3 separate regions of the Homo sapiens genome follow, and all the other regions are linked to region 2. The links come from fine-mapping of genetic effects on plasma protein levels. A gene starts in region 2. Each other region holds a variant in brackets. All regions are shown on one strand. Distances are from middle to middle.

Evidence for each region. PIP is the chance, under the fine-mapping model, that this variant and not a neighbour inherited with it causes the effect. Protein levels are from antibody-based Olink assays in UK Biobank. Linkage for the fine-mapping came from a reference panel and not from the study's own genotypes, which makes the PIPs less certain.
Region 1: its variant is fine-mapped to the plasma level of the FGL1 protein (UK Biobank, PIP 0.91). The variant lies in the coding sequence of FGL1. If it changes the protein, the assay may bind it differently, which can mimic a change of level.
Region 3: its variant is fine-mapped to the plasma level of the FGL1 protein (UK Biobank, PIP above 0.99). The variant lies in the coding sequence of FGL1. If it changes the protein, the assay may bind it differently, which can mimic a change of level.

What each region holds. Positions count from the first base shown.
Region 1 is chr8:17,871,826-17,877,062 of GRCh38, reverse strand. FGL1 (fibrinogen like 1) reads left to right here. Exons shown (of 8, transcript NM_004467.4): 4 at 2,542-2,701; 5 at 2,947-3,044. Among named protein-coding and RNA genes, the nearest start is that of FGL1, 21 kb to the left of the region's middle. The variant A/G (reference allele first, on the strand shown) is at 2,637.
Region 2 is chr8:17,893,184-17,898,420 of GRCh38, reverse strand. FGL1 (fibrinogen like 1) reads left to right here and starts at 2,897. Exons shown (of 8, transcript NM_004467.4): 1 at 2,897-2,974.
Region 3 is chr8:17,865,234-17,870,470 of GRCh38, reverse strand. FGL1 (fibrinogen like 1) reads left to right here. Exons shown (of 8, transcript NM_004467.4): 6 at 1,467-1,555; 7 at 1,736-1,923. Among named protein-coding and RNA genes, the nearest start is that of FGL1, 28 kb to the left of the region's middle. The variant G/T (reference allele first, on the strand shown) is at 1,911.

The DNA of each region.
Region 1 (5,237 bases), 21 kb after region 2:
GCAGGCTTCTTAACTTGTTAGCTATAAGCAAATTGAACTACTGGTGCTTTTTTGCTTTTTTAATGTTTATTTATTTGTTGGGGGTTTTGTTGTTGTGTTACTGTTTATTTCAGTTAAAAGCTTTTCTTAAGTTGTGTTTGGCATTTTCTTCTGGGGAGAAGGAAAATTTCAAAAACAAGACCAAAGAAATAACAAACTCGCAGTTAGCATAAAATAATAACAAGTAGAAAATTTTGGCTGAAACCTCTATATTCACTAAGTTTTCCAGAGGCAAATGTTATAGCTAATCACTTCCATATTTGCCTGGAAAATAGTTTGATCCTTGTGAGTCTTTAGTATTCAGCTCTTTGGTAGGAAATTTAATGTAAGCAAAAAGCTTCTTTCCAAATAGGGCTAAAATCTGCTTACTTTAATAAAAGTGTTGTACTATATACTTGACTACAAGATGTAAACTTTATAACAACATTGAACTAATTTTAGATAATCATTTTCTCATTGTTTTGCTTCTTGTTTAATTGCCAAAACAGGATCCTTTTTATAATTTAGCATGTATATGAACGCATGTGCTTCTGAATCTTGAAAATAAATATATGAATAAAGCCTAAATCATTACAAAGGTAAACATCTCACCAAAGCAGGAGTATATGGTTGGTCCCAACCATGTGAAGGCTTTATAAAATGACTAAGGTTCTTTCTTTTCTTTTCTCTTCTGATGTCTATGGCCTATTCACCTACTTAATGTGCAATATATTTTATCTGTAACAAAACAAGAGAGTTGTAAATTTGGCAATCTAGTATCAAAACAATGAACATTTGTTTTTAAATCTTTAAACATCTTTAAAATATGCTACAAGAATGGAATTATCCAATAAGAAAAAAATTTTTTGTTAAGGAAATTAACAAAGCGATAAGGGTAAAAGTGAAAGTTGATGATGTTATAGTATTTTTATTCAAATGTTTGTAGACGGCTCTTCTTGAGATTGTTTATAGTGACCACTACTTCAATCATCCTAAAACCTAGCTTTCTATGCATCTGAACAATAGAGAGGTCCCCATTTGCCACGTTCTCTAAGTCTGTACAGATCAACCTAGGTGAGACCCAATGGGTATTAATTTACATCACCCTCAAGTGGCTTAAGGAACAGACATCACCATTTGGCAGGGTGTGGTGGCTCACACCTGTCATCCTTTCACTTTGGAGGCCGAGGCGGGCGGATGGCCTGACCTCAGGAGTTTGAGACCAGTCTGGCCAACATGGCAAAATCCAGTCTGTACTAAAAATACAAAAAAATTAGCCAGGTGTGTAGGTGCGTGGCTGTGATCCCAGCTACTCAGGAGGCTGAGGCAGGAGAATCGCTTGAACCCGGGAGGCGGAGGTTGTAGTGAGCCGAAATAGCACCATTGCACTCCAGCCTGGGCGAAAGAGCAAGACTCTGTCTCAAAGGAAAAGAAAGAAAGAAAGAAAGAAAGAAAGAAAGAAAGAAAGAAAGAAAGAAAGAAAGAAAGAAAGAAAGAAAGAAAGAAAGAGAAAGAAAGAAAGAAAGAAAGAAAGAAAGAAAGAAAGAAAGAAAGAAAGAAAGAGATATCACTTTTTGGTGACAAAGGGGTAGCTACATTTGCTTCAGTGTTCAAAGAAATACCACAGCAAAAAAGAATTAAGGGATGAAAAGAATAGCAGAAGCTTGCAGTTTTTAGCAAAAACATCTAAGAATGTATGGACTTTTAGAAACTTCAGTGGGTTAGTAAAAAATCTAATAAGGCTAAGAGATTATAAGATTTTGACAAGATTATGGGTGCAGCACACCAACATGGCACACATATACATATGTAACAAACCTGCATGTTGTGCACATGTACCCTAGAACTTAAAGTATAATAATAAAGATTTTTACAAGATTACTATTTTGGGTTCATTTTCAGATGTCCAGAATGATTTATCATGCTCTAAGTCAGGATAACCTGTAGTAACTTTGGTGTTAACATTTCTGCTTTCATTTTAGCTTCATGGGTGAGATAAATTTTACTATTCCGTCTGATAAAACTGTAAGTTCCACCTAAATATACTGTTATTAACAGACTACTCATAACTTGTTTTTTTTAAGATTGTTTTCTACAAAACTCAGAAATTAGAAACTAAGCTCACACCTGTAATCCCAGCCCTTTGGGAGTCTGTGGTGGGAGGATAGGATTGTTTGAAGCCAGGAGTTCGAGACCAGCCTGGGCAATATAGTGACACGCCCCCATTTCTTAAAAAAAATGTAAAAGAAAAAAGAAGAAAGAAACAAAAAACTAGATTCTTATTTCACTCCCCTTTTTTCCTCGATGATTATATCAAGGATTCAGGTGGCAAATTTTAGCAAAGGAAATAAAACTTTCCTAATATCCACTGGAAGATGTACAAGATGCAATTTTAAAACGCTGATTTCTATACCATGTGTTATCTGTCTCCAGTGATACTGAGTAGTCTCATTCAGAGGCTCCCTAAGGCGGGGGGAGAAAAAGACACATAATGAATGTTACATTACCTTGTTTTAAAAACAGATTGTTCAGAGATTTTCAATGATGGGTATAAGCTCAGTGGATTTTACAAAATCAAACCTCTCCAGAGCCCAGCAGAATTTTCTGTTTATTGTGAC[A/G]TGTCCGATGGAGGAGGATGGACTGTAATTCAGAGACGATCTGATGGCAGTGAAAACTTTAACAGGTGTGCTAATTATGATGTAAGACTTTATATGTAGCAGCAAATGTGAGATTTATAAGTCAAATATTTTGATCATATCCTGAAGCCTATTAATTAGACAGAATTTCAATCTCTCTAAAGAAGAATACTGAAAATGAATTAACTAATCAAGAAAATATTGGAGGTGGTGGTAGCAGGGGGTGGGTGGTGGTCGCTTTGGTACCACAAATGGAGTTTGCTCTAATCGGCTTCCACTTTACCTTTTTTAGAGGATGGAAAGACTATGAAAATGGCTTTGGAAATTTTGTCCAAAAACATGGTGAATATTGGCTGGGCAATAAAAATCTTCACTTCTTGACCACTCAAGGTAAGGTTTGAATGATGTCAGATTTATTTGAAATATAATAAAAACAACACTAAAATTTTTTTTTAACCAAATTATAGGCAATGGAACTAATTCAATAATTGCTATGATTTGCAGATGGCAGTGATAACTTTTGGGCAATAATCCCAAATGTAAAATGTGGCTGCCTAAAATTAGAAACAGAAAAAAAAGCTAGAATTGGGTTGCGGGGAATTGTTTTCACATATATATTTATGAGAAATATCTAAATATATTTATAGATATATATACATTCTATACATAGTATATATGTAGCTATATATAGATATATAGAATATAAGTCGCTATATGTATCTATAGATATATATAGAATATATATATATTCTACTTCTGAAAAGGATATATAATGTCATAATTATTCCTTTTTGATGCCTTGAGTTCCTGGAGATTATATATGCTGTATCAGTTACCTAATGTCACAATAATAACGTGTAACAATCCTCTTCCAAAGCTTAGTGGCTTAAAATCAACAACCATTTATTACTTCTCACAAATCTGCAGGTTGGCTGGGTGATTTTGCTGATCAGGGCTGGGCTCTGCTGATCATGGCTGGGCTTGCTTATGAGTCTGCCATCAACTTCCTCACTGAAGTTGCTGCTCTGGGATGGAAGGATTCAACCTGGCTCCATAGGGTCTCTCATCTTCCAGCTAGCTAGCCTGGACTTGTTTTTGTAGCACAGGCAGGGTTCCACAAAAAAGAGTGGATGTATATAAGTCTCTTGAGATCTAGGCCCAGAATTGGCATGGAGTCATTTTTCTTCTATTGGTGAAAGCAAATCACAGGAGCAGCTCAGACTTTTTTTTAAAAGGAAGTAAACAATAGGAGGAGCTATGAAGACATATTATGAGAGAGAGGTGAACAATTGGGCAATTGGTGCTATTTTTCCAATAAAACACTATAATATATGAAATGTCCATGTTTCCACATACATCTCATCTTTAATGCTGAAATTTTTTCAAAGCTGCAACCAATTTGAAAGAAGTTTCAACCTACCACCTGTATCCTACATTAACATTTTACTTTGCTTGTTTTTGTTACGTATCTATCCGTTTGCCCATTACTCAATCCGTCCATCAATCCATCTTTTCTGTATATATATTTCAAAGTAAATAGCAGACATCTGGATGTCTCCCTATATACTTTTAAATTCTTATCTTTAGAGTTTAATATTTGTCTAAAATATCATTGTTTTGATAACGACTTTTCCCAGCTTCTATCTCCCATGTTCTTTTGCTCCAATCCATTGTCTTCCCTACCTCTGTTGTAGTCTGAGATTATCATCAGTCCCACTCAAGTCTGATCCTGAATCCTTCATAAAAGGCAACTGTAATGCCCAAAAAAGCATGCTAAGTTACACTGCAATTGCATTAAAAATAAACAGCTGGGCATGGTGGCTCATGCCTGTAATCCCAGCACTTTGGGATGCTGAGGTGGGTGGACCCCTTGGGGCCAGGATTTCGAGACCAGCCTGGCCAACATGGTGAAACCCCATCTCTACTAAAAATACAAAAATTAGCCAGGCATGGTGGCACAGCACTGTAATCCCAGCCACTTGGGAGGCTGAGGCAGGAGAATTGCTTGAACCCAAGAGGCGGAGGTTGCAGTGAGCCAAGATTGCGCCAATCCACTCCAGCCTGGGTGACAGAGCAAGACTCTGTCTCAAATAATAATAATAATAAAGTAATTAAGATAAAACAAAAGTTCCTTTGTTCCATCCAAGTTCTGGAAAGCTATTGGTGTTTCTATATTTATAGTAGTAGGCTTATGGTTATAAAGTTCTTTGAGACACTAGAATGATAAACATTAGACAGGATGAGTAATCCTAGAAACCTTATACTTTCTTTGTATGTCCTTCTTATGATCAGTGCTCTCTAAATTTACATAACGCTTCCTTTCCTTCAACATATCTATTATTCTAGTTTTAAGTGTTTTATGCCAGATATATAAAATTTGCCATACCAACTTCTGTTTCATTTGCACATTGATATTTATCTGGTTTCTTATTGAAACTATGAAAACCCCAGAGCAGTAACCCTTGGCTCTTTCTAAATATATGAAATTCAAACGTATTATTTTTTAAGTTATTATGATGTACATATTTTCCCAGAGGAACTTTGCCAACAAACCTGTTCCTTTTCATATATCAACTTGGTACT
Region 2 (5,237 bases):
TATTTTTCTAGTTCATATTGTCAGAATCTTTCCCAGAAAGTGTGTGTGAAGGTGGAACTATTTATTGATCATCTATTAATGTAAACTTTCTGCTAGTTACATCAATAATGGGAATACTTAGGATAACTCACTAGTAAAACTGTTTTAGTTTTATTAATTTTAAAATGCTTCTCCATTGAAATTTCTGAGACCTACGTTATGTGCAAATAAACTTTCTAGTTTTTCAGGACTCTGCCTGAGATGACATTGAAACCAGCATTTCAGGAAGGAATTTGATTACCTCCACCTGAGGAAGCTCTGCTAGTTGTGTGGAACGAAGACTGTTCTTAACAACCCCTTTCCTTGATATCTACAATACGCTCCGTTCTAAATATTTTAATAAAGGGCACATTTGAAGTTTAAAATGTTATCATTGTAATCAGAGCATGGAGTTTTATAAGTCCCATAAAAGGGTGCCTCCTGAACTGGGAGTCAAGTTTGGAAAATATAACCATCAGAAATTTATGCTGGTAGAATACAGTCAAGGATATAAGATCATTTGTCTGAGTCTAGTTCCTCATGCAGCCTTAAGTAGACATGTTCCTCGCTGCAAGCTTGAGTGGACTGGAGGCGGCAAGATCTGGAATTAAACCTTCCCACGGTGACTGGGTCAAGTATCAAATAATGGACAGGTGTTCAATCTGGCAGGCACAATACAGGGTCCAGAGGGTTTGGATGAAAATTGTGCTGTAACTGATGTATTAATTGAAGAGTTCTCTGAAAAAGGTCTTCCAAAAGGAAAAGGAAAAAAGAATTGACAGTGTCCGTTTAATGTGTTTGAGAGCCTAATCAGCCTGATCTTGGTGGGACTGTACTTGTTGTCCTATTATATCATGCTTTTCTTGTACTTTTTTCAGCCAGTGATCTCAGGTCTCATTCTCATTTCATAGCTTTGGTGCAGTTGTGCAAGGTCACAACTCTTCTTTCTTGCTTTTTTTCTTTTTCTTTTTTTTTGACAGGGTCTTGCTCTGTCACCCAGGCTGCAGTGCAGTGGCGCGATCTCGGCTCACTGCAATCTCTGCCTCCTGGGTTCAAGTAATTCTCCTCCTCAGCCTCCTGTGTAGCTGGTACCACAGACGCCCACCACCACACCTGGATAATTTTTGTAGTTTTAGTAGAAACTAAAAATACATGGGGTTTTGCCATTTTGGCCAGGCTGGTCTCGAACTCCTGACCTCAGGTGATCCACCTGCCTCAGCCTCCCAAAGCGTTGGGATTACAGGCGTGAGCCACCGCACCTGGCCATAATTTTGACCTTTCCTGATGATAGTTCTTCCACCATGTTATGGCAGTACATCCATGGAATAATGTTACTCCAAGAAAATTTGGCTTTTGGAATTCCTCCACAAAGTATTGGCCCTAGAGTAGTCCTTACTGCCTGATTAACTTTTGCAAGTTTCTCCTGAGGTAATGATGCTAGCCAAGTTTCCGAAAGACAGCATAGTCTACCTTTAGTAGAAAAGAGGACAGATTCTGAGCAGGATTGCCTTTGAGCCCAGCTATACCTCTTGTTAGCTGTGTGACCTCGTGCAAGTCACTTAAACCTCTGTGTCTCAGTTTCGTCATTTGTGAAATGGAGATCATTAACAGTACCTACTTATAGGGCTGTGTGGCTGAGTGAGTTGATAAAATTACCATGTTTAGCACATGATAAGTATACCACATGTTAGCTGCTGTTAATGTTATGTCCCTCCAGTGAGGAAATGAACACAAGGCTAAATTATTGCTTGAATGGGGACAAAGCTAAAGGCATACAAGAAGGAAAGATAAGTTTGTATTTCAAAATATGTCATTTTACCACAGAGATCATTATTGAATTAGCCGAATAATCCCATATTTTTGCTTTTGAAATTTAACATTAGCAGCTTGAATTCTCTACAATTATGAATGTATAATTTCCACTTCTTCTGTGTGTGTGCAAATCACTTCAGTCTAACTGGCTTTTTTTTTCCTTCTTTTTTCCAGTAAATCAACAGGATTACCTTTCCCTTAATAATCTTCAAAATGTCCACGTGAAGGACAGGAAGATGTTTAATGGGAAGACCAAACATCGTCAGTGCTCAAGTCCAGTAGATAACAAAGAACAGAAAGAAAACAAAACTTTGGTATTTTACTGGAATCTGAGTGAATAAATAGGGACCACAGGACAAATGGCAAACAACTGCTTGAGTTACATCAGAAGGAAAGAAGAAATGATGAACCCAGATTTCCAGTAAGAAACTGTTACACAATACGATTAATGGAGCTAACAAGTGCCTATTACACATTAGAAAATCTTCTAGAGGATTTTAAAACAAAAGGAACAACTTGTCCAGAGTATAATCGATGCTTCCAGTTAAATTTCACAATTTTGCACCTCAGGGAATACTTTTGTTTTTCTTAGAGAGCAAATAAACTGACCATTTCACCTTGGCAATTATTAACCTGCCTTGTTTTTTATAACTAGGAAAAATTTGGCTTATCTCCATATTTTAGTTGAGATGACATATTAATTCATATTTTTGTGGGTAAAATGTTATTACCCTTAATACAAAGCAAAGTTTCAGCTGGACTTCGTTTTTACTTAATCTTCAATGGAACATTATTGAAGTTACAGTACAAAAATTCTCTGAATGAACATAATAATAAGTTGTAAAATATATATATCTTTATAAAGATATATTATTGGATCTTTCACAAAAAGTCATACAAGTGGGGAAAAAAGAAAAATATCAGAGTATTGGGATTTGTCCTTGAATCTTCTCTTTTAGCTTTCTTTCAGTTAAACCTGTGTCCACATGTTTGTTTCTGGATTGAAGCCAGAATCAACATTGTCCCTATTTCTAATCAAATAATGGAGAAATAATTACAAATTCCCAATGCAGTTACAGGATCCTGGGAAGCAGAGTGTCTGGATGGAACCTGAGCTGGGTCTCTGACTCACTTCTGACTTTAGGCAAGTTATTTAATGTCTCTGCATTTTTGACATGCTTGTAATAATGCTAATTTATTTCACAGGTATGATAGTAACCAAAACTCAGGTAACAACCATTAGCTTTTGCAAGAAGTCAGGTTGACTAGCAAGGAGTCTGCTTCTGCTACTTGGAGAAGAGATTTAGAATTATGTATCTTTTGTTACAGATATACAGATATACAAATATACAGATATACAAATAAGGTATGTTAGAATTACAAATGAGGAAAATGGAAAATTTTAGAGAACTTAAGATATTCTCAGGAATTATTCTAAAGCTAATCAAAGTAATATAATGACTTTCTAAATATGTATAATTACATTTTGAAATGCTTTATTGTTTATATGCTACCAGACTAGGGGGTGCCTTTTTGATTATTGGATTATCTTAATGGTAATGAGATGAACATTTCAGGACATCAAGAGACAGAGGCCTGTCAAAAAAATTTCATTAGCCCTTTATTTTTTACTAAATCTAATGCTAAGCAATATTTATATACCTTATATAATGTATATATAATCTATAATATATACATAATTATGTATAATAATGTTACGTACATACATATACATATATATACAGTGTGCGCAGGTAAAATTATATGATATATAGGTGCATCACCCAGAGCATTTTCAAAACATACTTCCATTTATGCAAGAGCCAGAATCAAACATTGGAATAAGAAAATTTCTTTTTTAAGCTCTAGGCGTTTTTTGTTGTTGTCGTTTGTTTGTTGGTTTTTTGAGATGGAGTCTCACTTTGTATAATTTCCTTTACATTTTGAATGAATTGCATGGGAGTTTGACGTAAATGATAGGTTTACAGTTTCAGTATAAAAAATTAAAAATAAAATGGACTATATGACAATTTTCACTTCAGAAGTCAAAAAACTTCAGAAACATTTTTCTTTATTGCATTTCTTGAGGGATCAACTATATTTAGCTTTGTAAGGCTTTCAGTGAGTATGGATTCTTAAGAAAAATACAAAAGCACAGTTATATTCCATTTTCAGAAAGAGGAAAAAATTTGGAAGGAAATAGCTTAAAAGGAGTCTCTAAGCTTGTGTTTATGGGTACATTTTTAACTCACTGACTTAGGTTATAGTCCTAAGCATTATAGTCCTATAGCGTTTGTGAATGCTAACTTATTAAACATACTTCGTTCAATAACTTTTTCCTTCCTTTTTATTTCTTTTATATATCCTTTTACAATGCTTGCTTAAAACATACCAGTTTTGAAATGTTTGCATGCTACTAATGTACTTCTGTTTTGTAATTGTTTTTAAAAATTATATATTATTTTTAGAACTTTTCATTTACAAATTTAATGTCTTCATCTTTAAATTTAATGCAGCGTAATTAATTAAATTTTTTTTAAATATAGTGGGGAAGGAATTAGAATTTATAGCATTAAAATTATGTAAAATAATATAGTCCACCAAAGAACAGCCATTTGATAACAATTTTAATTTTATAATAATTAAAAGTTTTGATACTGCCTAAGGCAAAAATATTATAAAAGAAATACAACTAATTGTGCAATAAATGAACAGAATAATTTGATACAACTTTACTGTAAGCCAGATGTGCAGAAGAAATAATGGTTTACTATAATGAATGATGGAGACCAGAATTTCAAAGCAAGTTTCTTAATGCTTAGCATTTCTTCAATATTACAGAGAATGTTGGTTAGAATTGCAAAGGAGGAAAATGGAAAATTTTAGAGAACTTAAGATATTCTCAGGAATTATTCTAAAGCTAATCAAAGTAATATAATGACTTTCTAAATGTAAATAATTACATTTTGAAATGCTTTATTGTTTATATGCTACCAGACTAGGGGGTGCCTTTTTGATTATTGGATTATCTTAATGGTAGTGAGATAAACATTTCAGGACATCAAGAGACAGAGGCCTGTCAAAAAAATTTCATTAGCCCTTTATTTTTTACTAAATCTAATGCTAAGCAATATTTATATACCTTATATAATGTATATATAATATAATCTATAATATATACATATTATGTATAATAATGTTATGTTCATACATATACGTATATATACAGTGTGCGTAGGTAAAATTATATGATATATAGGTGCATCATTCAGAGCATTTTCAAAACATACTTCCATTTATGCAAGAGCCAGAATCAAACATTGGAATGAGAAAATTTCTTTTTTAAGCTCTAGGTGTTTTTTGTTGTTGTTGTTTGTTTGTTTGTTTTTTGAGATGGAGTCTCACTC
Region 3 (5,237 bases), 28 kb after region 2:
TCTAACCCGACCTTACAGGTCATTGTTATATCTTATTTATCAAAGTAGGAGGATAGAACACATGTGATCTAATAATTTGATTTATAACATTTGGTGCCCCTGACAAGAGTTCTGTTTCTGAAAAAGGAATAGTCTTTGTTATTTCCAAACAATGGGAAAAAAAAGATTACTTGAAGGTAGCAATTATTTTAATCATTTTAAAAACATAATGCTCTTATATCGCCTAGAATTTTTACAGTCATTAAAGTATATCTTTAATGTTTAGAGATTTTTTGTCATCATATATCATTCTTTAGCATATATAAAAGATAATATGTACCCAATACATTGTATTCTTTTTTTTGTTTTTTTGTTGTTTTTTGCGACGGAGTCTCGCTCTGTCGCCCAGGCTGGAGTGCAGTGGAGCAATCTCGGCTCACTGCAAGCTCTGCCTTCTGGGTTCACGCCATTCTCCTGCCTCAGCCTCCCAAGTAGCTGGGACTACAGGTGCCCGCCACCATGCCCGGCTAATTTTTTGTATTTTTTAGTAGAGACGGGGTTTCACAGTGTTAGCCAGGATGGTCTCTATCTCCTGACCTCGTGATCCGCCCGCCTCGGCCTCCCAAAGTGCTGGGATTACAGGCGTGAGCCACCGCCCCGGCCCCATTGCATTCTTAAAATGCTTTCACATGTAGATATCAGTTCTTCAGAAATACCTTTTTACTCAGAGTCATTGATGTTAGTATATTTTCCAGTAATTATCATCATCTCTGCCATTGAGAATGTTGGTGGTACAGCATTTCTCCAGAATGTTTCCTTATTGCCTCTGAAATTCTCTTCCAATGACATCCACTCTACATACTTTGATGCTAAGAGTCTCTTGATCTTATGAGCCAGTATCAAACGAAGGTTTTCGGATAACAATTAGGATTCATATTTCTTCCTCAAATTATTCTTAAAGGGTTTCCTGGCTGATCTTTTATGCTATCAGGAAAATAACCAAGTTCAGGCATATGCAGGCAATGGCAACTACATTTTACAAACCTAGTGGCTCAGCTACTAGAGATTACACAATGTCATTAATAGCCACCATTTATATTCAAGATCAACATTCTTACTGAAATCAAGAAAAAGAGGTCAAACTATTAAAGGTAAAACGTCGACCCTTTCATTGTTAGATTGCTTTAAGTAATCACTTATTTTTTCTGTTGTTCATTATTCAGTGAATTGCACTAGGTTTTACCTCTAAGAGATCTAGTAGACATTTTTTAAATTTAATATTGTATCCATCATTTTTTTTCAAATAAATTACACGATAAAATGTTCATGTTATATATACAAAGGAGTCACTGTTTAATCTTTGAAAACTGATTCTTGGCCAAGGGAAATGGTAAAATTAAAATAGAGCTGTGAATTATTTTTAAACCGCAGTAGTCCGTGTCATGTCACACATTTTTAAAAATTATAATTGCTTGTTTCTTTTTTAGAAGACTACACTTTAAAAATCGACCTTGCAGATTTTGAAAAAAATAGCCGTTATGCACAATATAAGAATTTCAAAGTTGGAGATGAAAAGGTACTACAATTTTCTAAGAAGTAAAACCGTGAATAAATGCTTAAAATGTGCAATATAACCCTGGAGTCAGTGGAAATAAAAATATACAATAGAACCTGTTCTTTTGTTTATGAAATAAACTTAATTTTAAAATGGTCATAGAGGAACTCCACTGACAGCAGAAATGCCCTTTTTCTTTAGAATTTCTACGAGTTGAATATTGGGGAATATTCTGGAACAGCTGGAGATTCCCTTGCGGGGAATTTTCATCCTGAGGTGCAGTGGTGGGCTAGTCACCAAAGAATGAAATTCAGCACGTGGGACAGAGATCATGACAACTATGAAGGGAACTGCGCAGAAGAAGATCAGTCTGGCT[G/T]GTGGTTTAACAGGTTTGATGTCTTATGAGCATAGTTGTAATGGAGTTGATGATATCTCACTGATAGACATTAATTATCAATATAATATGTATGGTAATGTTAGTCTTTATTTATAATATTAGTATTATTAAGTAATCATTCTCATTAGAATTCTTCAGCAATGAAGTCGTTTTGAGGATTTGTTCATTGTGTACATTAGTAAAGTGTAAATGTCATAGAAATAAATTATTACTTTTACAAAGATCATTTGCAAACTGAATTATGGATGAGTTATAAATAGAAGGCCACAAATTCACACAAAGAAAGAGAGAGCATGTATATATATGGAGACTATTTGGCATCCTAATAACCAACTAGTTCTTCACCTGACCATATCACACAAAAGAGCCACCGTTATTGCTGTAATGCTTCTGTATAGTACTACTTTTCAATCACTATGGCTTTCATTAATTCATTGAGTCTAAGCCTCTCCCAATACAGAAATTTCCTTTACAATAATCCAGAAACCTAATTCTACCCTCTGACTGAATACATTCATGTTACTTTATCAGCAAATTCATTCCGTTTTTGATTGTATATAGTTGCTTCTTTTTTTACTGATACAAAATATTTTATATATTTCTGGGGTACATGGGCTAATTTTTGCATTTTTGGTAGAGATGGGGTTTTGCCATGTTGCCCAGGCAGGTCTCGAACTCCTGGCCTCATGTGATCCACCTACCCCGGCCTCCCAAAGTGTTGGGCGTGAGCCACCGCACCCTGCCGAATTCATAAGTTTTAAATTGCATGTCATTCTGAGCAGAGATTCGCACCATTGGATTCTTTCTGCCCAGGAGGTGGGTCACCCCTCTGTCTAGCGTATCCACGCTGAAAGCCCTCCCTGCCCCAAGACACTTAGTAGAAGTCTGAGTTATCAGATCCAGTGTTGGAGTTTCATAGTGCTCGTGTTCGAATCATGCTTATTTGATTTAATAATGGTCCCAAAGCACAAGAGCTGTAATGCTGACATATTGTTATATAATCATAATCTTTTATTATTAGTTGTTGTTAATCTCTTACTGTGTCTAATTTATAAATTAACTTTGTCATAGGTATGTATATTATAGGAAAAAACAGAGAACTACTATAGATGGTTTTTTTCCTTCCTACACCCAAAAGATTTTTCCCCCTAGCGTTCTGAAATTTTACAGTGACATACACTGTCGTGGTCTTCTTTTGGTTTACTGCAGTGGGTACTCAGTGGTTCTTTTGAATCTATATCATGTCTTTCAGTTTGGTAAATTTTATTTTCTTTATCTGCTCGTTACTCACTTCGTAGCTGTTTCGGTTATCAGACTGAAAAAGCATAGTATCAATATATAGAATTTGGTATTATCTGTAGTTTCAGGCATCCACTAGGGGTCTTAGAACGTATCCCCTGCAGATAAGGGAGTACTACTGCTGTTGTAAAAATAGTCATCTTTTCTATATTTTGCTTTTTTAAAAAAACATTTGAGTCCATTTAAGATTTGATCATTTATAAAGGAACTGGAGTATTTCCAGCAGTGTGAAGGAGAGAAACAAATTTCACTCTCCTGCTTTGCAAATTGAAGGTGATGATGGTGTTTTCCTTAGTGGTTTTCCTGTTATTTTAAAAACCGTCTTCTTCACCTGTTCCTACTCCTTTCTTTCCCCCTTGTTCTTCTAAGTCAGCATGACATAAAACTTAACGTGTAATTCATGAAGTCATCTGCAAGCATCACCAATGTTTGATTTTGAAAACAATTCCATATACAGAAATAATTACTAATAGTATCCTGAGATCAAAACCATGTACTTTATCCAGCTGACTGGCTTCTAAGGCATCTGAATGAAAACTACCATGTATATTAATGTGGGCAAAGGAACGATTTACCTGACTTTAAAGAAATGGGTTCAGGGAGCACAAAGAAAGGCCATTCATTAGGTGGAGCCTGCCACAGAGCCCACATTATCCTTGGAATCAAAGGGGTTGATAAGGCTGTGCAATTGGAAAATCAGTAGGCATTAAGGGAGAGAAAGTAGATTGTTTTAGAAACTTGGTGCTACTTCTACCATGCCTACTATCAGTGAGTTCGACTATCATCTTTTCTTCCTTCTTACTGTTGCTTTTTTTCTGTCCCATAGTTCTTCTAATTTACATGAAATGTTGGCACTTCATAAATATTACCCACCTATAAAATGTTTTTTTCCACATAGCAAACCAATCACTGCGAGTTGATGTCTTTTCTTTGTTAGTGTAGCATTTCACGTGAGTGTTCACAGCCACTTCTTCACCAAGGAAGACCCAATCATCCCCTAACCTAGTTTCAAATCCAGGCTGTTCTAAAAACTAAACGATGCTAGAAAACTGGTCTCAGAATAGTGAAGGTTTCTTATGTTCATCACAGAGTCAGTTTCCTAATGGGATTCAAATGATAGACCAAATATAAAAATATAGTTAGCAGATGTCTCTAGATAGACAAATATATGCCAAAATATATATTCTGGAGACTCAATTTACAGTATTTTCTTTTTTTAACATTACTTTCCATGCTGTTTTAAAAACACAGTAGGCTTTGACATTTGCAGACTTGACATACATATTTTCAATTAATTACGTCCATTTAAGTTAGGAGGACTTCGAGAACGCTCAGTAGGAGTGAATCATTAAGCTGATAAGTGATTCAAGCCAGCCACTCAGCCTTTACGGGTAGATTATATGCTTTTTTGATTCAATAATTTGGGTTTTTCCATAGATGTTCAGAACTACCTCTTGTGAATGTTCTCCTTCTATCCTAATTCTGACATCTTTTCATTAATTTTATCAATAAAGAAGTATATGGCAATTAATTTCATAACAACACACATAAACTTATTGCATACTGTTACATGTAAATTATACATATCAAGGACAAAATTTACAGACTCCAAAGGAGGAAAGAAACATTTTTATATTGTCGATAACCTAACCAGCTTATCTAGATTGGTGCAATATATGTAAAAAATTAACTCAGCAACTAGGAAAAAATGATTATTGGTTGATGGGTGGCAAAACTTTAAATGGTGATTTAGGTTTGTTTGCTTACCCTTGAGATTGAAATAACTGATAGGCTAGCAATTTAAAGAAGGGGACATACGGAGTTTGAATTATGAAAGCTAAGTCTTAGCAGCAGAGGAATGAACGTGTGAGTGCAAATTATCCAGGAAAGCCAGTAGTAGAGCACCTTGCCCACGACTTGCTTTGCTGACACTCACCTTAGCTCTTGTTAAGTATGAAATTAACACTGTTCTGAGTCAGGAGGTTGTAAGGCTGGAGGTTACAAGGA